5 linked regions of the Homo sapiens genome follow. The protein of the gene in region 5 purifies or fractionates together with the protein of the main gene of each other region. This does not show direct contact. Each region holds a gene or a part of one and is shown on either strand. Other genes may lie near its edges.

What was found.
Region 1: the proteins of MFF (region 5) and ITM2B purify together in Homo sapiens (co-immunoprecipitation; one large-scale study listed by IntAct). This does not show direct contact.
Region 2: the proteins of MFF (region 5) and HCN1 purify together in Homo sapiens (co-immunoprecipitation; one large-scale study listed by IntAct). This does not show direct contact.
Region 3: the proteins of MFF (region 5) and MGAT5 purify together in Homo sapiens (affinity purification with mass spectrometry; 2 studies listed by BioGRID and IntAct, with this or other methods). This does not show direct contact.
Region 4: the proteins of MFF (region 5) and CCDC126 purify together in Homo sapiens (affinity purification with mass spectrometry; 2 studies listed by BioGRID and IntAct, with this or other methods). This does not show direct contact.

The regions. Positions count from the first base shown.
Region 1 is NC_000013.11:48,253,695-48,257,219, reverse strand, and holds part of ITM2B (integral membrane protein 2B), read right to left. Parts: intron 3,413-3,525; coding exon 3,284-3,412; intron 1,044-3,283; coding exon 837-1,043; intron 1-836. UniProt on the Homo sapiens protein: Plays a regulatory role in the processing of the amyloid-beta A4 precursor protein (APP) and acts as an inhibitor of the amyloid-beta peptide aggregation and fibrils deposition. Plays a role in the induction of neurite outgrowth.
Region 2 is NC_000005.10:45,259,362-45,262,886, forward strand, and holds part of HCN1 (potassium/sodium hyperpolarization-activated cyclic nucleotide-gated channel 1), read right to left. Parts: intron 3,450-3,525; coding exon 2,560-3,449; 3' UTR 1-2,559. UniProt on the Homo sapiens protein: Hyperpolarization-activated ion channel that are permeable to sodium and potassium ions. Displays lower selectivity for K(+) over Na(+) ions.
Region 3 is NC_000002.12:134,260,572-134,264,071, reverse strand, and holds part of MGAT5 (alpha-1,6-mannosylglycoprotein 6-beta-N-acetylglucosaminyltransferase A), read right to left. Parts: intron 1-3,500. UniProt on the Homo sapiens protein: Catalyzes the addition of N-acetylglucosamine (GlcNAc) in beta 1-6 linkage to the alpha-linked mannose of biantennary N-linked oligosaccharides.
Region 4 is NC_000007.14:23,603,868-23,607,392, reverse strand, and holds part of CCDC126 (coiled-coil domain-containing protein 126 precursor), read right to left. Parts: intron 3,308-3,525; exon of another isoform or gene 3,114-3,307; intron 1-3,113.
Region 5 is NC_000002.12:227,338,732-227,342,256, reverse strand, and holds part of MFF (mitochondrial fission factor), read right to left. Parts: intron 1,966-3,525; coding exon 1,877-1,965; intron 1-1,876. UniProt on the Homo sapiens protein: Plays a role in mitochondrial and peroxisomal fission. Promotes the recruitment and association of the fission mediator dynamin-related protein 1 (DNM1L) to the mitochondrial surface.

The sequences.
Region 1 (3,525 bases), on a different chromosome or scaffold from region 5:
AGGTGAGTACAGCATAATAAAATATTTTGAGAAACCACCTTCACATAACTTTTATTATAGTATTTTGTTATAACTGTTTTATTATTATTGTCGTTAATCTATTACTGTGGCTAATTTGTAAATTAAATTTTAACATATGTATATATGTACACTAACAGGAAAAAACATAGTATATACAGGGTTTGGTACTATATGCAGTTTCAGACATCCACTGGGGGTCTTGGCATGTATCCCCCACGGATAAGGGGGGACTACTGTCCTATAAGATCATGTTAATTTTCTTAGATGTGATAATTATGTGGTTACGTAGGAGGACAACTCATTCTTGAGAGATAATAGCATAAGTACTTATGTCAAATGACAGAAAAAGAGATGAAGCAAATATGGCAATATTTGGAACAAAGTGGAGGATTTTGGGTATTCAACTTTTCTGCATTACATAAAAATGCTCAAAAGCTGGGGAAAAATATAGAATGAGAACTTAAAAACAGATTAACAAAATTATTGATTTTGAAAATGCTACCAAGAAACAGGAACATAAATTACCTCTTATCTAAGAAAATGTGGGAACATATAAAAAATATTAGTTTGCCAGCAAAGGAGGAACAGTCATGAGGTGGGCTTTAAGAGTAGGTAAGGCAAGGGGAAGGAGAGATAAGATATGAGAAGGCTGCATCAGCAGGGTCTGCTTCAGACATAGCAGAGCCCACCAAATGCTGACAGTTTATTAAACTAAACTCTAAATATAATAAATTAGCAAATATTGAAATTAAAACTACAAAAAGCATAAACTACAGAACCTGCATTCTTTCTACAATTCTGGACACTTGGCTCACCTTGTTAAAGTCATGAACAATGTTGGCAGGATCACTATCTGCAAACTCTGGGACAGGCACACTGATAAATTCAACTTCTTCTTCTTCAAAGATTTTAATATTTTCTTCAATTGTCTGGTAGAGAGCAGCTGGGGCATCTGCAGAGGGCTCATTTAAGATGACATCATCTTTGATGTACTTTATTCCACAGTAGTACACGTCATCTGGCTATAGAGAGTTTAAAGACTCATTTCAGCAATTCAGCATGAGACAGGTTTTTAAATAAGCATTACTTAAGCTGCCACCTCTATCTAAATAGCATTTTGCTTGCAAACTCTTGCTTTTAGATGACAAGTCAGACAGTTTAATTACAGAGTTAACATATTCTTTAAGATCAGGTTTTGAAGCACTGTAAAAGAACAGCTTCAGAAGAAAGGCAGCTGGTTTTCCCTTTACTTTTCCTGGTAGGTGAAAATAGAACATAAAAATAATTAGCTATCCAGTAACAAATAAATATAAAGAAACAACAGACCTACTCTACCTGTAAGCAGTTTTTATAGAAGAATACATTCCAAAACTAGTCAAGTTTTTCTGAAAGAATATATTAAAAAGTTTTGATATGGTCTACTAATTAAATGACTTTTTTCTTATTAGCCAAAAAAGGGATAATTTTTCTGAAATTTCTATATGCATATACGTAGTTCTACTTTTCCCTTTATATCACAATTCAGTGGAAAATATTAGATTACAGCAAATCTTTATGCTACTGTCTCACTTTTACAAAAAGAAAAAACAGTACATAAGGTCGGGTGCAGTAACTCATGCCTGTAATCCTAATACTTTGTGGGGAGGAGGCCTGAGACAGATGGACTGCTTGAGCCCAGGAGTTCAAGACCAGCCTGGGCAACATGGTGAGACCCTGTCTCCACAAAAAATAAAAAAATTAGCTGGGTATGGTGCCACGCACCTGTAGTCCTAGCTACTCCTGGGGAGGTTGAGGCGGGAGGATTGCCTGAGCCCAAGAGGTTGAGGCTACAGTGAGCTGTGATTGCACCACCGCACTCCAGCCTGGATGACAGAGTGAGACCCCATCTCAAAAAAAGCCAAACACACAGTACATGTACACGTGCGCGCACGCACACGCGCGCGCACACACACACACACACACACACACTACACACACTACACACACAATAAAGACTAAGGGTATACAAAATGTGAATGCACAGGGCCAGGCATGGTGTGTCACGCCTGTAATCCTAGCACTTTGGGAGGCCAAGGTGGGTGGATCGCCTGAGGTCAGGAGTTTGAGACCAGCCTGGCCAACATGATGAAACCCTGTCTCTACTAAAAGTACAAAAATTAGCCAGGAGTGGTGGCAGGTGCCTGTAATCTCAGCTACTTGGGAGGCTGAGGCAGGAGAATTGCCTGAACCCGGGAGACAGAGGGTGCAGTGAGCCGAGATCGCGCCATTGGACTCCAGTCTGGGCAACAAGAGAGAAACTCTGTCTCAAGAAAAAAAAAAAAGTTAATGCACCAAATGTTATCTCTGGAAAATGGAATTGCGATGATTTTTTCTATACTATATGTATTTCTTGTAAATAAAACTGTATTTAAAAAGATGACTAGTATTTTGGTAATGTCTATCAACATGTGATTGATTATCTTGAACAACACAGAAAATGAGCATGAAATTGAGAATGTTTCAAAATTAGTTAAATTATTTTAATAAGTCTAGTTGTCAACTGTTTCTCCAAATTTTGAAACAGCTGAAGTAGTCATAAAACCTTGAAAGTAATTTCCCCTTCAAAACTCCTAAAAAAAAAAATTGTGTATTATTGCCAAGAGAAATATATTACAAAATAGATTGTAAATTATAATCAATCACAAGGAAGACCTTTGTCTTAACCCACTGGGATTACTATTAAACACTCAAAGTTATAAACAACTTTCATCCTATGTTATTTCAATATCACTGCTGAAGTCACCCAGTTCTTTAGTGAAACCATGACTGGAAAAGAAGCAGAGACATGGTCTTACTGTATTCTGGGCCCAAGGGTACAGCAGGACCATAGGGGAGTCCAAGCTGACTATCAAGTTATGGCCTATCAACATGAAAACATTTGTGGCTGATGTATTTATTCAACTGGCAATTGATAATACTATTCCTCTCAACCCTTAATTATAGTAGGAAAATAAAGGTTAGTAAAATCACCCAATGACCTAAATAAATCCCTTAGTCACCAACATTTCAAGTTACTCTGCTTTTAGTGACTGTGTGTGATGGGCTCAGCAAACATATCATGGAGAGATGTTTAAACACAGCTTTAAAATAGAACTACCACTCTGGCTGAAGGTCACAGATAAAAAGTACAAGCTTAGCGCAAGTTGTAAACAATTTTGTAATGCACATCGGGAGAGGCAAAAAAAAAAAAAAATCAGAGACACAAAATAATTTTTCCACTTACTTGAAGTGCAAAATATTTGTACAAGTATGCTCCTCCTAGAATAACACCTGCAAGCATAAATGCTAGTCCAAAGCACATGCACCAACACCAGGCTCTTCTTTGGCCAACTGGTACCACATCATCTGGGTCCTAAAATATGAAAAAGACAGTTAAATATCTTATCTCCAGACAGAATAACAGAAGGCTCAGGACTAGAAAAACCTTAATGATTATCATTTTAATAAATGAAGACACAAAGACCA
Region 2 (3,525 bases), on a different chromosome or scaffold from region 5:
TAAGAATCAGCTATTCTATTATCTTTCCAGCAGCAGAAAGACCAATGAATAATACATTTCTTTCTGTACAGATTAAAACTCCATACATACGGGCTTCACTATGTACAGAGAAAAGAGGTCACTTTTCAACTAGCAATGGACCTTTATATTACAGGAATGTGAGTCATTTTTTTTTCTTAATCTAAGTATATATACATTCATACATATATGTATATAATTTACCCTGTACCTTTTTATTAGTTTAATATATAAACCTTAGTTTTTTTGTCCATTCTATTACAAAGTGAATAAAAATTGTATGGTTGCACTGAAAGACCATGCATTTCAATTTTGCTTATGTTTCCCAATAGTGCTCAAAATAAAAAACCAAAAATTTATATATATAAAAATATTTCACTACCAAATCCATTAATCCTATCAAATGTAAACCTTTAATAATTTAAAGGACCAATACGTAATCTTAATAAATTGAAGTTAATTCTCATATTTTAATAAAATAAAGGAGTTTTGTACTGATATGTAAATGGTCTTGCAGCTTTCCCATAGGTTCTAGGTAGACTGAACAATCCCTTTCTTACAACAGTATTCCTGACATGCCATCATATGTCACCAGCATATTGATGATTACATTACATCGACTAGCAGTTAATTACTTCCACACCAGTTGGGATTTGTTTGAAATTAAACATAACAACTCATTTTGGTATTATAGGTATTATATCCACAAAAGGCATAACAGGCAGCAAGGATCCACTTTAGAGTTTCTGCTTTTGTTTTTGTTTTCTGTCCTCAAGTCTATCTGCAGGCCCTGTCCCACATAATGTGTGATCTCTGTATGTTCTTAAATGTATTGCCAGTGCCAGAGATACTGAAGACCTCCACTTTAAGTCATGCTCTTAACTTGGGTTATTTACCGCAGCCAGTTGTTAGGAATCTTTCAATTGTGTTCCAGTCATACTCCACATGTGTGGGATGCATTAGGCACAAATGATTACTAAGGGAGTTCTTTGAGAAGAAGCAGGTGCTCACAGATCATGTAAAGAGTTAAGAAAACAGACAGACAATGCTCATAGACGTTCAACTTTACCCCTGCTTTCTGTCACCATGTCTGTACTATTTTCAACACATTAAAAATGACAAACCTCCTATCTAAGGGCTACGTTAGTCACCACATGCCTTAAAGTTTACTAACCATTTAGTTACAATATACATAGAGCAAAATGTGTGTTCCCAAACAGACGTGATGCTGTATTGAATTTATTTCTTTAAATTAATACCATAGTAAATTACCAGCTACAGTGAAGACACAGACAACACTTAACTCCAAATCAAGCTGTGGTTTACAAATAATTATTTAAATAATAATAGCAATAATATTAAATAAAAGTGAAAACCTCACTTCTAGACTTAAGTCAGAGATCCAAGTCAGCCTTATAGGAATTATAAGATAGGCAATTAATGAATTGTTATGCTTTTCTAGAAACGAGAAATACTGTAAGCCTTTCTCTACAATGACTGATTTGAACCTATTTTTTTTTCCCCAGAAGCATGCAGGGACTATTTTCAGATGCTTGATTATGGCAAGAAGAAAGAAAAGTAACGATTTTTGGTGTAATACAAGCAATTTGTAGATTCGAGCATACAATTTTGCATAAAACATTGCAGGTTAAAATAATATTGTAGGTTTCAAGCCATTGCATTACAATTGAATAATTCTCACAATCAGGTTTTGTAAAATTTAAAACTCTAAGTTTTGAAGTGAAGCAATAAAACTAAATTCTTAAACAATGACTTTTACCTTCATACAACACAGAATAGCTATTTTTATTTGGGTTGAAAAAGTTATTTACAACTAACATTGATCGAGTCTTGGTAAAAGTCCGATAACACATGAAGACAAATATTAATTTTCCCTCAGCTTTCTGAAAGATCAATGAACATGTTTGAGGTTAGTGATATTCTTAACAAACAGTGGCAATGCTAGTCTCCTACGGTGGCCAAGCAAGTAGTGCATTCTTTAACCTAATTTGAAATTGAAAGCACCGAAATACAATTTAGATCTATAAAATGGGATTTGTTATTTAATTCTCCACCATTAATGATTAACAATTTAGATGCAGAGACACAGCTAATGAAAGAAAGTTTTGATTGGTGCTATTTACTAGTTCATTTGAGTTGCCTTTTTAAAATCAGTTTTGTTTCCATTGAATCCAAGAACTCTTCATAAAATAGAGAAATATACATATCAAAGGACTTAAGTAAAAGTAGGTTAGAAATAAATAATCTTACAACGACATTTTAAATCCTTTAATGATTTAAAGAAAGGAAGACATATAACACTGAATGCTAAACAGGTCTTTTGACCCTCTCTTGGGAATTTAGATATATATTTTATAGTATATGTATATATATTTTTACATTTCACGTGTAGGCCACAGCTGTCTAAAATATCTCTTCATAGTAGGCTAGAGGGATCTATCAGGAGATAGAATAAAATAAGATCTGAGTATAGTCTCAGTTTATGAGAGTATTTCTTTCTGCTTTGACAATCAGCAGGGATCATAAATTTGAAGCAAATCGTGGCTTTTCTGCGTCTGGGTCTGTGTTTAAGACTGAGGAAGATTCTCTTGGAAGAGCAGCTGCTGGTGGAGGGGGTGCTGGAGGGACTCCTCGGTTCGGGGGGATGGCTCCCGACGACATCTGTCGGAAGAGGGTGACGCGCTGCGGGACAGTGCTCCTGCCCCCTGCCTGAAGGCCCGTTCCGGGGACCGCCGTCACGGGTTGAGGGATGGAGGCCAGGGACTCGCCCACAGTGGGATGAGGTCTGGAAATCAGAGTGGACACCTCATGGGGCAGCGAGGGCTGCGAGGCGGAGAGTGGCCTGACTTCCCGGGTCAGGTTGGTGTTGTGAAGCGCCTGCGTGCTCTTGTGCACTTCATTTTTCGGCGTGGAGCTGCCAGGTGTCTGTGGCTGCGGGGACGGCTGCTGTGGCTGAGTCTGCGGCGGCTGGGACTGCTGTACCTGCTGCTGCGGCTGCTGTTGCATGAGTGACAGCTGGGAGGCGGTGGGGGAGGCATAGTGGAAAGTTCGAGCGGCCAGAGGGCTCTGTACAGGAGGGCTGCAGACCGCGGTGGTGTAGGAGCAGGGTGACAGGATGGCTGATGGCTGGGGGGTCTGTGTGCTGGGACTGGGGGAGTGCAGGTTGCTGTGAGACAGGCTGGTCGCTGTGTACACCGGTGGAGATTGTGTCCTCATGCGGGAGGTCGGGGTCGTAGTAGACGATGTGGAATTCAGGGTTGTCATTTGAGGATAATTGATGGGAGCGATTGCCTGCACCATCTCCCTGTCATGTTTCACAATCTGCTTGAGGATTTCGTTCTCCTGATTGTTGAAAACACCAGTGTTCAGATCCTTCTGGAACTTTTGCAGAAGAATTGAATTTTTCTTTCCTGTCAGCAAAAGAAAGATAGGCACTTAGAAAGCCTACCAATGACTGATGACAACGCCAAGTGAGAGTGGCTCCTG
Region 3 (3,500 bases), about 93 Mb from region 5:
CAGCCTGGGCAACAAGAGTGAAACTCCATCTCAAAAAAAAAAAAAAAAAAAAAACCTAATGGCATAAGGAAATGCAGTATCTTAATTTTTAAAAAAGCATATATTCATGTACATATATACACATATACACACATGTACGTATCACTTTTTTTTTTTAAAGAACTAAAGGGAAATCAATTTTATCTGGTAAGATCTGCATTTAGAGGTAAAGAGTGTATTTATTCTTTATTCTTCTCCATACTTCCTCATATGCTTTAATTTTACATAAAAATTCACATTATTTTCAAAGTCACAAAGGCATTAAGTGTTATTTTAAATATATATACATAGTACAATGAATTGTACTCTTAAGAATCAAAGATAGTGCCACCAGTACCCTAAAGTCATGTAAGGCAATACCCACCAGAAACATCTTAGTGACCCTTACTGCCTTATCTCATTTGAATTTTAAAGCCACATGTTAGATAATTTGCCTGCTCCTGAACTGACAAAAAGGTGGCTTCCACCCTGCAGTTGTCCCAGTCAGCAGATTCTGGACAGAAAAGGGCATAAAACAATTATCACCAAAGTCAAAGAGCAGCTCAGATGCTCAGCAACACTGACTAGCCTTCTCTTCTGGGTTAGAACTACAGATTTAAGCTTTCACCAGAACTTGTGCCCAGAAGCGAATGTTTTTCCTAAGGTGTTGCAGAGGGTGTCATTACTATTGAGGAAGTTTCCATGCATCGAAATCTGGTAAAAGATCCTTTCTAGGCCTGTTGATGATATTAAGTGCTTTATGGAACCTGAATAGAGTTCTTAAGCTATTCTTTGAATTTTCCTAACATGTAGCCAGCTGCAGGGAATAGGAACCAAGAATTTTAGCCTTTTTTATAGAAAAGATAAGGAATCAGAGAAGTGCTGAGAGGTCAAGCCTATTGTTATCCATTGTCCCCCACCTGATGCCAGGGCCCGCACCTTCTTGGAAAGGGTGGCCTCGCACACTACTGCTTCCTGCTTGCTGTACCATGCCAGAAACACCACCACCACCAATGCCCTGGTTAGATCCAAAGGTGAACTTGGCCATACCCAGCTTATCTTACAGCCCACAGAAGAAAACTGTATCTTTTGAACAGGGCAATGACAACCACATCTCCTAGTTTAGTAGGGTGGTGGCAAGCCTGACCTCTTCTGAAACAGAGCATATTTCCTCTCATGTCTGGTCAGGCTCTACCCCTGTAAATGCTAAGAATAGCTACATAAACAGGTTGCTGAAGCCCTGTGTTCAAACAAATGAACAACGTCAGATCTACATGAACAGTTATGCCTGGGTGGTAACAGATGCAGGTACATTCAAGCCAGAGTTAGTGATTACTAATAGGAATGAATGCATTTTAATTAAGCGCTGGTTGGGCACAGTGGCTCACACCTGTAATCCCAGCACTTTGGAAGGCTGAGGTGGGAGGATCGCTTGAGGCCAGGAGTTTGAGACCAGCCTGGGCAATACAGTGAGATTCCATCTTTAGAAAAAAAACTTTTGTTTTAAATTAGCCTAGTGTGGTGGCACATGCCTATAGTCCCAGCTACTCTGGAGGCTGAGATGGGAGGATCACTTGAGGCCAGGAGTTTGAGACCAGCCTGGGCAATACAGTGAGACTCCATCTTCAGAAAAAAACTTTTGTTTTAAATTAGCCTAGTGTGGTGGCACATGCCTATAGTCCCAGCTACTCTGGAGGCTGAGGTGGGCATAAGGCTTGAGTCTGGGAGGGGGAGGTTGCTAGAGCCTGATCACACTACTGTACTTCAGCCTTGGTGACAGAGCAAGACTCTATCTCCAAAACAAAACAAAACAAAATAAAACAAAAACAACACCAAAAAAAAAGAACAAGAATAATCTAAATTAATCTAAGTGCCTTAATAAACTTTGTCATTTGTAATCCTTACAACAAGCCTATGAGGTTAAATGATATTATATTGTCTGTTTTACAAAAGAGGAAGTAAGCTTTAAGATGATCGGTGACTTGTTCAAGGTCACACATCAGTAAGGAACACAATGTGTTCCATCCGCCCAACAGAAACACTAACTACCTTCCAGAATAAACAATGGTTCCCATGTTAGGATCATGCATAAGAGCTACTTGGAGCCTCTTAGATGCAGAGCCCATAGGGAATTTCTTCTCATTTCCTGCTTCACTAAAAACATTACTGTGATTTTCAAATGAGTCCCAGCTGTAACTGTACCACACAGAGCATCACAGAGTTTCACCAGGGGCTGCTGCTATTCATTCATGGCTCTTACTATGTGCCAGGCAAAAGGTACTAAGCTCTGGGGCACAGTGGGGAACAAAACAGACCAAAGTCCCTCCTCTTTCAGAACTTACATTGTAAGTGGGAGAGACACATGATCAGCTCATACAACAAATACTTGATGCTAAGTAGCTTGAGTGTTATAAAGAATGAGAGTAACAGTGGGTTTGGGCCCTCCTGTGAAGGAGGGAAGGCTAACTTCTCTGAAACAGAATGGAATGCGCATGGCTGTGTTCTAACCAACTTTATTTACAAACAAAGAAGGAAGAGAGGAAGGGGTGGGGGAGAGCAAATGCAGACGCTCAAAGACAGGCGAATGCTCAGCCACCACCCAACAGTCTTGTCCTAGAAGAGAGCCACCATGCCTTAGTAGACTTGAGGGGGTGCGGAGCTTTTTAGGGTGTCCACAGCAGCAAGAGGTCTGCTCAAGCACTTCTGACAGCAAAAGAGCACCAGGACACAGCTGGGAAGAAGCAGAGGGTCATAGAGAGCTATGACCATCAGGTAAGACAAGGGACATTCTAAGCCTCATCGTTTGAACATGGCAATGACAATCACATTGAGATTGAGACTCCAACCTCACACATGTGCGTGCAATCCCTCCTCAATCCAGACTTGAAGTAGTGGTGCTGCATGAAAGAAAGGGTCTTAATGACTGAGGGGTAGAAGAATGAGCCCCTTATTCTGAGTTTACTCCTCCTGTCTAAAACATTTCTGAGGTCTTCCTCAGACCTTTTGACTGGCCTGGGCGTGCTTGTGAACTTGGCCTGGCTTTGATGAGGATACTGGGCAGGCTGGACTCTACCACAGGATGGCTGGAAAAGTCCCAAGCCACAGAGAGGCCCATTTTTAGGTTCCAAGCTTTTTAAAGCAGAAAGCCCTTTCTTTAATCACACCAGCCACGTCACCATACAGTAACTAAAAGCCTTCTCAGACACACTGAACAGCCCAGCTATTTTTTTCCCTACCATTTTCACTTCAAGAACAGTGTATTTCCCTCAAGGGCAGGGGATTTCTACTTTGGCAACAGTGGTTTTCCACATTATCCCACAACAGTCCCAGCCCTCAAAAAAAAAAAAAAAAGAAAAAGAAAAAAGAAACCATTCCTATTCCTTGACCATATTTCCCTATTTGTAGGAAGAGAGACACAAAAAAAAAGTGGAAAAACAAAACAAACTAAAAAACCCTTTACATGCTTGCATCTTTAATGAAAT
Region 4 (3,525 bases), on a different chromosome or scaffold from region 5:
ATTTTTCTTTATGTTTCAAGTACTGATCCAGCCCCCAGAAGGCCACTTAGATAAGGACAGAGTCACTAAGCAGAAACCTGATAGGCCAACATTGAGGCCAAGGGCTTATGGCTACCATCTGGCATAGTTCTTATTGGAGTACTTCTTCCATCAAAACAGTCTACAATCTAAAAACTTTTAAATCTTAATTTCTAGGCCACTATATTAATTTTCTATTAATCACTTAAAAAAAACACAAAACTTGAAATTCACCAAATTAACAACTAGAGAGTTGTTTTTTGTTTTTTGCTTTTGAGACAGGGTCTCGCTCTGTTGCCCCGGCTTGCAGTACAGTAGCACGATCTCAGCTCACTGCAGCCTCGGCCTTCCGGGCTCAAGCAATCCTCCCACCTTAGCTTTCTGAATAGCCTGGAACTACAAGTGCACACCACCAGGCCTAGCTAATTTTTGTACTTTTTTTTTTTTAGAGGGGTCTCATTACGTTGCCCAGTCTGGTCTCACGTGATCCTCCTGCCTCATCACGTGATCACCTGGCCTCACGTGATCCTCCTGCCTCAGCCTTTCCAAAGGGATGGCAGGTGTGAGCCACTGTGCCTGGTCTGGAGTTTTAAAGGCAAAAAATAAAATAATCATCATCATTGTTATTTTGGCCTAAGATAAACCTTGAATATTTTTAAGATTCCCAGGAGAAAGTGCTCAACCAACTGCAGAAGTCACAAAAGTAATTAGTCTATATGGCACAAAAGTAGAATAACTAAGGAGAGGGGACACACTTAAAATGAAGTATCAGTAAAGTACTAGACCTGAAGAAGGGCAACAGAGTGTGATCCAACTATCACCACCTCCAAGTGGATTCCTATAGCTGCTTGTCAAGTGGTTTGCCAGACTCCTCTCCAACCCTACTTCAATCCATTCTTCTCAGAGCAGTCAAATATTCTTCCAAAAACAAAACTCATAATTCGAAGACATTTTGCCAATAAAAAAAAATGCTCAACCTCATTAATCATAGGGAAATGTATATTAAAACCACTATGAGGCCAGGCACAGTGGCTCACACCTGTAATCCCAGCACTTTGGGAGGCCAAGGCAGGCAGATCACGAGGTCAGGAGATCGAGACCATCCTGGCTAACATGATGAAACCCCGTCTCTACTAAAAATACAAAAAATTAGCTGGGTGTGGTGGCGGGCACCTGTAGTCCCAGCTACTTGGGAGGCTGAGGCAGGAGAATGGCGTGAACCCAGGAGGCGGAGCTTGCAGTAAGCAGAGATCACGCGACTGCACTCCAGCCTGGGCGACAGAGCAAGACTCGGTCTCAAAAACATAAATAAATAAATAAATAAAACCACTATGAAATACCACTTCATACCCATTAGGATAGTTATCACACACACACACACACAAAAAAAAACAGAAAACAAGTGTTGGCAAGGATGTGAACAAATCGAAACTCTTCTGCTCTGCTGGTGGGCACATAAAATGGTGTGGCTGCTGGGGAAGACAGTATGGCATTTCCTCAAAAACTTAAACATAGGATTATCATACAATCTGTAATTGAACTTCTGGATATATACACAAAAGAAATGAAAGCAGAAACCCAAAGGGATATGTGTATGCCAGTGTTCATTGCAGCATTATTCATAACAGCCAAAAGGTGGAAACAACCCAAGTGTCCATCAACAGATAAACAGATAAATAAAATGTGGTATCTACATACAATGGAATATTATTCAGCCCTAAGGAAGTAAGATGTTCTGATACATGCTACCACATGGAAGAAGAGAATGGAAAGTTATGATTTAATGGGTACAGAGTTTCAGATGGAGATGATGAAGAAGCTCTGGAGATGGATGGTAGTGATGGTTGCATGATGATGTGAACGTACTTAATGTCACTGAACTGTACACTTAAATGTTAAAATGATAAATTTTAGATTATGTATTTTTTTACCACACACACACACACACACACACACACACACACACACACACACAAGCATATCACATTCTCCTGCTTAAAAACCTTTCAACAGTTTCACACTGCACTTAGAATCTAACATGCAAACTCAGTACCAACCTTTACAACATGCAATCCACAAGCCCTACATAATCTGACTTCTACCCATTTCTCTTTGTCCTAATCTCATACCACTTCCCTCTTGCTCACCATGCTAAACCCATGCTAGGGAAAACACATTAAATTCTTTCTGACCTCAGGGTCTATACAATTGCTATTCCCTAGCTTGGAGTACTTTCCCTACAACCTGTTCCTTTTCATCCTTTAGTACTTAGTTCAAATGTCATCGCTTCAAAATGTTTTCAAAAAGTTGCACTCCAATTCCTATCCCACTCTAGCCACAAGGTACTCTCTATCATTTTCTTTTTTTTTTTTTTTTTGAGACGAAGTCTTGCTCTGTCGCCCAGGCTGGAGTGCAGTGGCTCAATCTCGGCTCACTGCAAGCTCCACCTCCTGGGTTCACACCATTCTCCTGCCTCAGCGTCCCAAGTAGCTGGGACTACAGGCGCCCGCCACCACACCCGGCTAATTTTTTGTATTTTTTTAGTAGAGACGGGGTTTCACCATGTTAGCCAGGATGGTCTCGATCTCCTGACCTTGTGATCCACCCGCCTCAGCCTCCCAAAGTGCTGGGATTACAGGTGTGAGCCACCGCACCTGGCCCTATCATTTTCTATATGAAATTATAGTATATCTTTAAAACCTTGTAAAAGTTATTTTATCTCCCTAAGGCCTGATATCCTCACTTATATAATGGGGACAACAATACCTATTTAATACTGGTAAAGAATAACTGACATACTACTCAATAAATATTAATCTTTATCATTAGTGTCAGGCATTTATGCAACAATGCTACTAATTCTTGGTAATCTGAGTAACATTAGGTAATACAGGAAATGTCTTAACAGACTCAAATAAAACTCCTGATTAGCTCTCATGGGCCTCCACAACCCAGTCTCCAAAGACCAAGTTTATTTCTCATTAGTCACAAAAATATCTCCTCCAATCCAGCCAGTCTTCTCTCTGCTTCATACAATAGTAATAATTATATCTTACATTTATATGATAATTTTATTTACCCAGCATGTGTCTTACCTGTTTGCTGACATCCTCTCATTCAGTTAATAACAGTCAGCTCTCAGAGAGGCTACAGGCTTGAAAAGGTTTCTACTCAGAATTTGTGGACAACATGAAAATGTCATTGGTATTAAGTCACTGGAGCATTACCTAGTCCTAAAAGATGACATAATAGCATGTTGCTGATGAGAACAGTTCATCTTCCAAGTAGTCTGAAAGGAGACGAGGTAAAATACCTGTTTAAATCTTACCTCGGATAGAATGATTTCAAAACCTCCTTACCTTATTCTACCCCACACTGATCTTCTTCTAACTCCCACAGCATGTTACTTCATACCAATTAATTTTATATATCACACATCCAAGCATGTGTGTAAGCCATGTCTCCCTGATTAAGTCCCAGGTCCCTTATGGGCAAGAACAACAAGCC
Region 5 (3,525 bases):
TACATAACATGGTAATATACTTTACAACCATAATGAAAAATATGGTTAAGCAATGTTAAGTGTTTCACTGTGAAAATGTATAAAGATTCATTACTTTTACTATCAAAAATGAGATTTTCAGTTTTACTAAAAATTTAGAAAATGTCATTAAAGCAACTTAAAGAAAAAAAAAGAAAATCAAGTATTAGTTAACACTGTAAATCTTTTCTGTTATGAGGAACTTATGTTATTGAGTAAATACAAAAACATCTATATCATCTACTCTAAATTATACTTCACTGGACTGGTTTTCGTACATAATAAAGGGGTTTCCTTTCTCTTCAGCTGAATGCAGCTATAAATAATATATACTTCGGGAGAAAAAATAAGAGTGGTGCTATATTACAATAATCTTGTTTTTATTAATATAAAATGTCAAAGTAGCTAAGAACCTAAATAGTAAGCCACATCTTTATAAAGTGGAAAAGCTTACTAGAAATCTTTGTTGCCTTAGGATAATGTTACAAAAAGAAAATAATTAAAGCTCTTGAGTGTATGTTTAATCACTCTAAAGCAGATCAAGAAGCCACCTTAGCCATAAATGATACAGCCTCTTTACCGTTTGTGTAATACATTTGGAAATAGTCTAGAAAAAATGGATTTCATGGGCCTGCTGACATCACTGCTAACCAGATACCTTTAGGGAAAACACAATCAAAAAATTTTATATTACTAATGGTTGAATCTTGCATAAGCATTCCCTGAAGGAGATATATATTCATTTTAACCTGCTCTCTTCCTACACAGCCTTTCAGAATAATTTTAACTACCTTAGGAGATATTTCAATATTCTATAAGAAATCAGAGCAGTTTTAGTTCTCCTTTCACCTAACACAAGAGAATGGAATTTCAGTAAGGCAAGCAAATAATTTATATAGAAATTAGAACTTCCTTGTTCTTTCAAAGCAAGGATTTGAAAAAAAAAAAACCTCTCTCTACCTTTAATATCAATGACCCTAACCCCAACAAAACCCCTTCTGTACCCCTATACTCTTTAGAGAGGTCCAAACTAGAGATTAATATGCTGTAATATAAATCACTGTATTGTCCTCTAGTTATTTTGTAAATAAAATTAAATGCTTTGCTTCTATTTAGATTTGCTAGCTCTCAGAAGAGATGTATCATCTCCTGATTCTTTCAGTTTCCACAGACGCTTACATGATACTTGCCATCACATGTGGTTCATGAGTTTACGAAAATTGGCCAAAACATTAATGAGGAAGAAATATTAATTTATATTTAAAAAGCCACTACTGACAATGACTTTCTGATTAAAATTCTGACCAGTTTTCGAAGAACATTTTGTTTGTAAAAATCCATTAATTTTAATAAAAAAGTAAAAAAGCACTGACATTAATAATCTTGTGGTAGCTTTAAGATCAGAATTTGATAATACAACCAAATGAAAAAGAAAGGTTTAAACAAATAGTCTTTTAAACAACATACTTGTATGTTCTGAAAATGAAAAGGACCAAAAAATTCAATGAATCGTAAGGGAGAAAGCTAAAAAATACTTTTGGAAAGAAAAAAATTCTATTTGTCTTGCTACACTGTTTAACATAGCTCATTAGAAGCAAAGCTGGAAAGGACCAGTTCACCATCTTATGACAACTTAATTAGCAAATCATACTACACAGGAAAGGATAAGGTGACTGAAAAATTCTCAGGACCAACAAAATGGCCAGATTTTAAGATTACAAAAAGTATTACAAAAATATAAAATTGATGTAAAACAAATTTTAAAAACTACATGAAGTAATTATTTAGAAAAACATGGGTACAGAAAATATCCTGAGAAAACTTACAAACGAGATAAAATGCTAGTGCTTCTACTCACAGAGAATCATTTCTGACCAGCTGTCCATTTTGGCGAACAGCATTTTCACTCATAGACCGCTCTCTTTTTAGTCTGCCAACTGCTCGGATCTGTTAAGGCACAAAGAGAGGGAAGGAAATAGAAATATTCTTAGTAGGCTAGTAGCTGCTTAGCATCAAAAGAACCTCGATACAAGGCTACTCAAAAAACTTACAACGAACTAAGAAAAGGCAACCAAGAATTGCTGCCAGGCAGTGTATTACTGACAGACTTGCTTTAAAAACAAAACAAGACACACACACACACACACCCTACTTACTATAATGCAGATAAACAGGAATGTCTATTTACTTTAAGAACGCTACTCTAGTTTCTTTTTAAGTATCAATTTTACTTGGTACAATTATTATTTGTTTAACCTTATGGTATATACTTATTTATAAGAACAATTTATAAAAGTGTTTACAGGCACATATAGGAAATGGAGAGCATCTGTATTATAAATAAACCTTCCTGGCTTCTACGGTTGTAACAAATTAAGATTTGGTTGAATATTTGAAAACTAGACTAAAAATGTATCTAGCTTAATGGTTTTGGCATTCCAGAATGGCTGCAATCTCTAATCCCACATGCTCTTCTTATGAAATGTATCTTTGACCTTCTTCATTAAGAGACAGGATCTGTTTCTTTCCCCTGAAATTCAGAGGGCTGGTGACTCCTATAGAAATGATGCAAAGTGACTTCTGAGGCTAGGTCATAACAGTACAGCTTCTGCCTTTCTTTCCCCAGGTTGCTCATATTTGGAAGAATGGCACCATGACACAAGGAAGGCCAAGTAGCCACACAGTGAGGCCATGTGTAAGTGCACCTGCCAACAACCCTAATGGAGGTCCCAGACAACAGCTAGTACCAAGTGACATGTGAGTGAGCAAACCTTCAGATAACTGCAGATCCAGCTGTTGAGTTATCCTTTGCCTTTGAGACTTCCTAGCTTAGGCCCCAGACATTGAAGAACAGAAACAAGCTTTTCCCTTCACGGCAACTGCAAATACCTAACCCACAGAATGCTTGAGCAAAACATAGGCTTGTTTGTTTTAAGCCACTAAGTTTAAGATGATTTGTTACACAGAAATGGATAACTAGAACAGTGATAATCATTAACTTTTCTGCTTATTTGAAAATACCTTTTTTTTTTTTTTTGAGATAGGATCTTGCTCTGTCATCCAGGCTGGAGTGCAGTGGCATGCTCATGGCTCGTTGCAGCCTCAGCCTCCTGGGCTCAAGTGATCCTTCCATTTTAGCCTCTGAAGTAGCTGGGACTATAGGCACACACCACCGCACCTGGCTAATTTTTGTATTTTGTAGAGATGGGGGTTTTGCCATGTTCCCCAGGCTGGTCTCGAACTCCTGAGCTCAAGTGTTCTGCCCACCTTGGCCTCCCAAAGTGTTGGGATTACAGGTGTGAGCCACTGAGCCCAACAAAAATACTAAAAAAAACAAAACAAACAAAAAACCCCCCACTAAAATAGCCATGGCAACATTATGGTTTTTTTTTTTGTTTTTTTTTGAGACAGAGTCTTGTTCTGTCGCCCAGGCTGCAATGCAGTGGCACAATCTCGGCTTGACTCACTGCAAACTCTGCCTCCCGGGTTCAAGCAATTCTCCTGCCT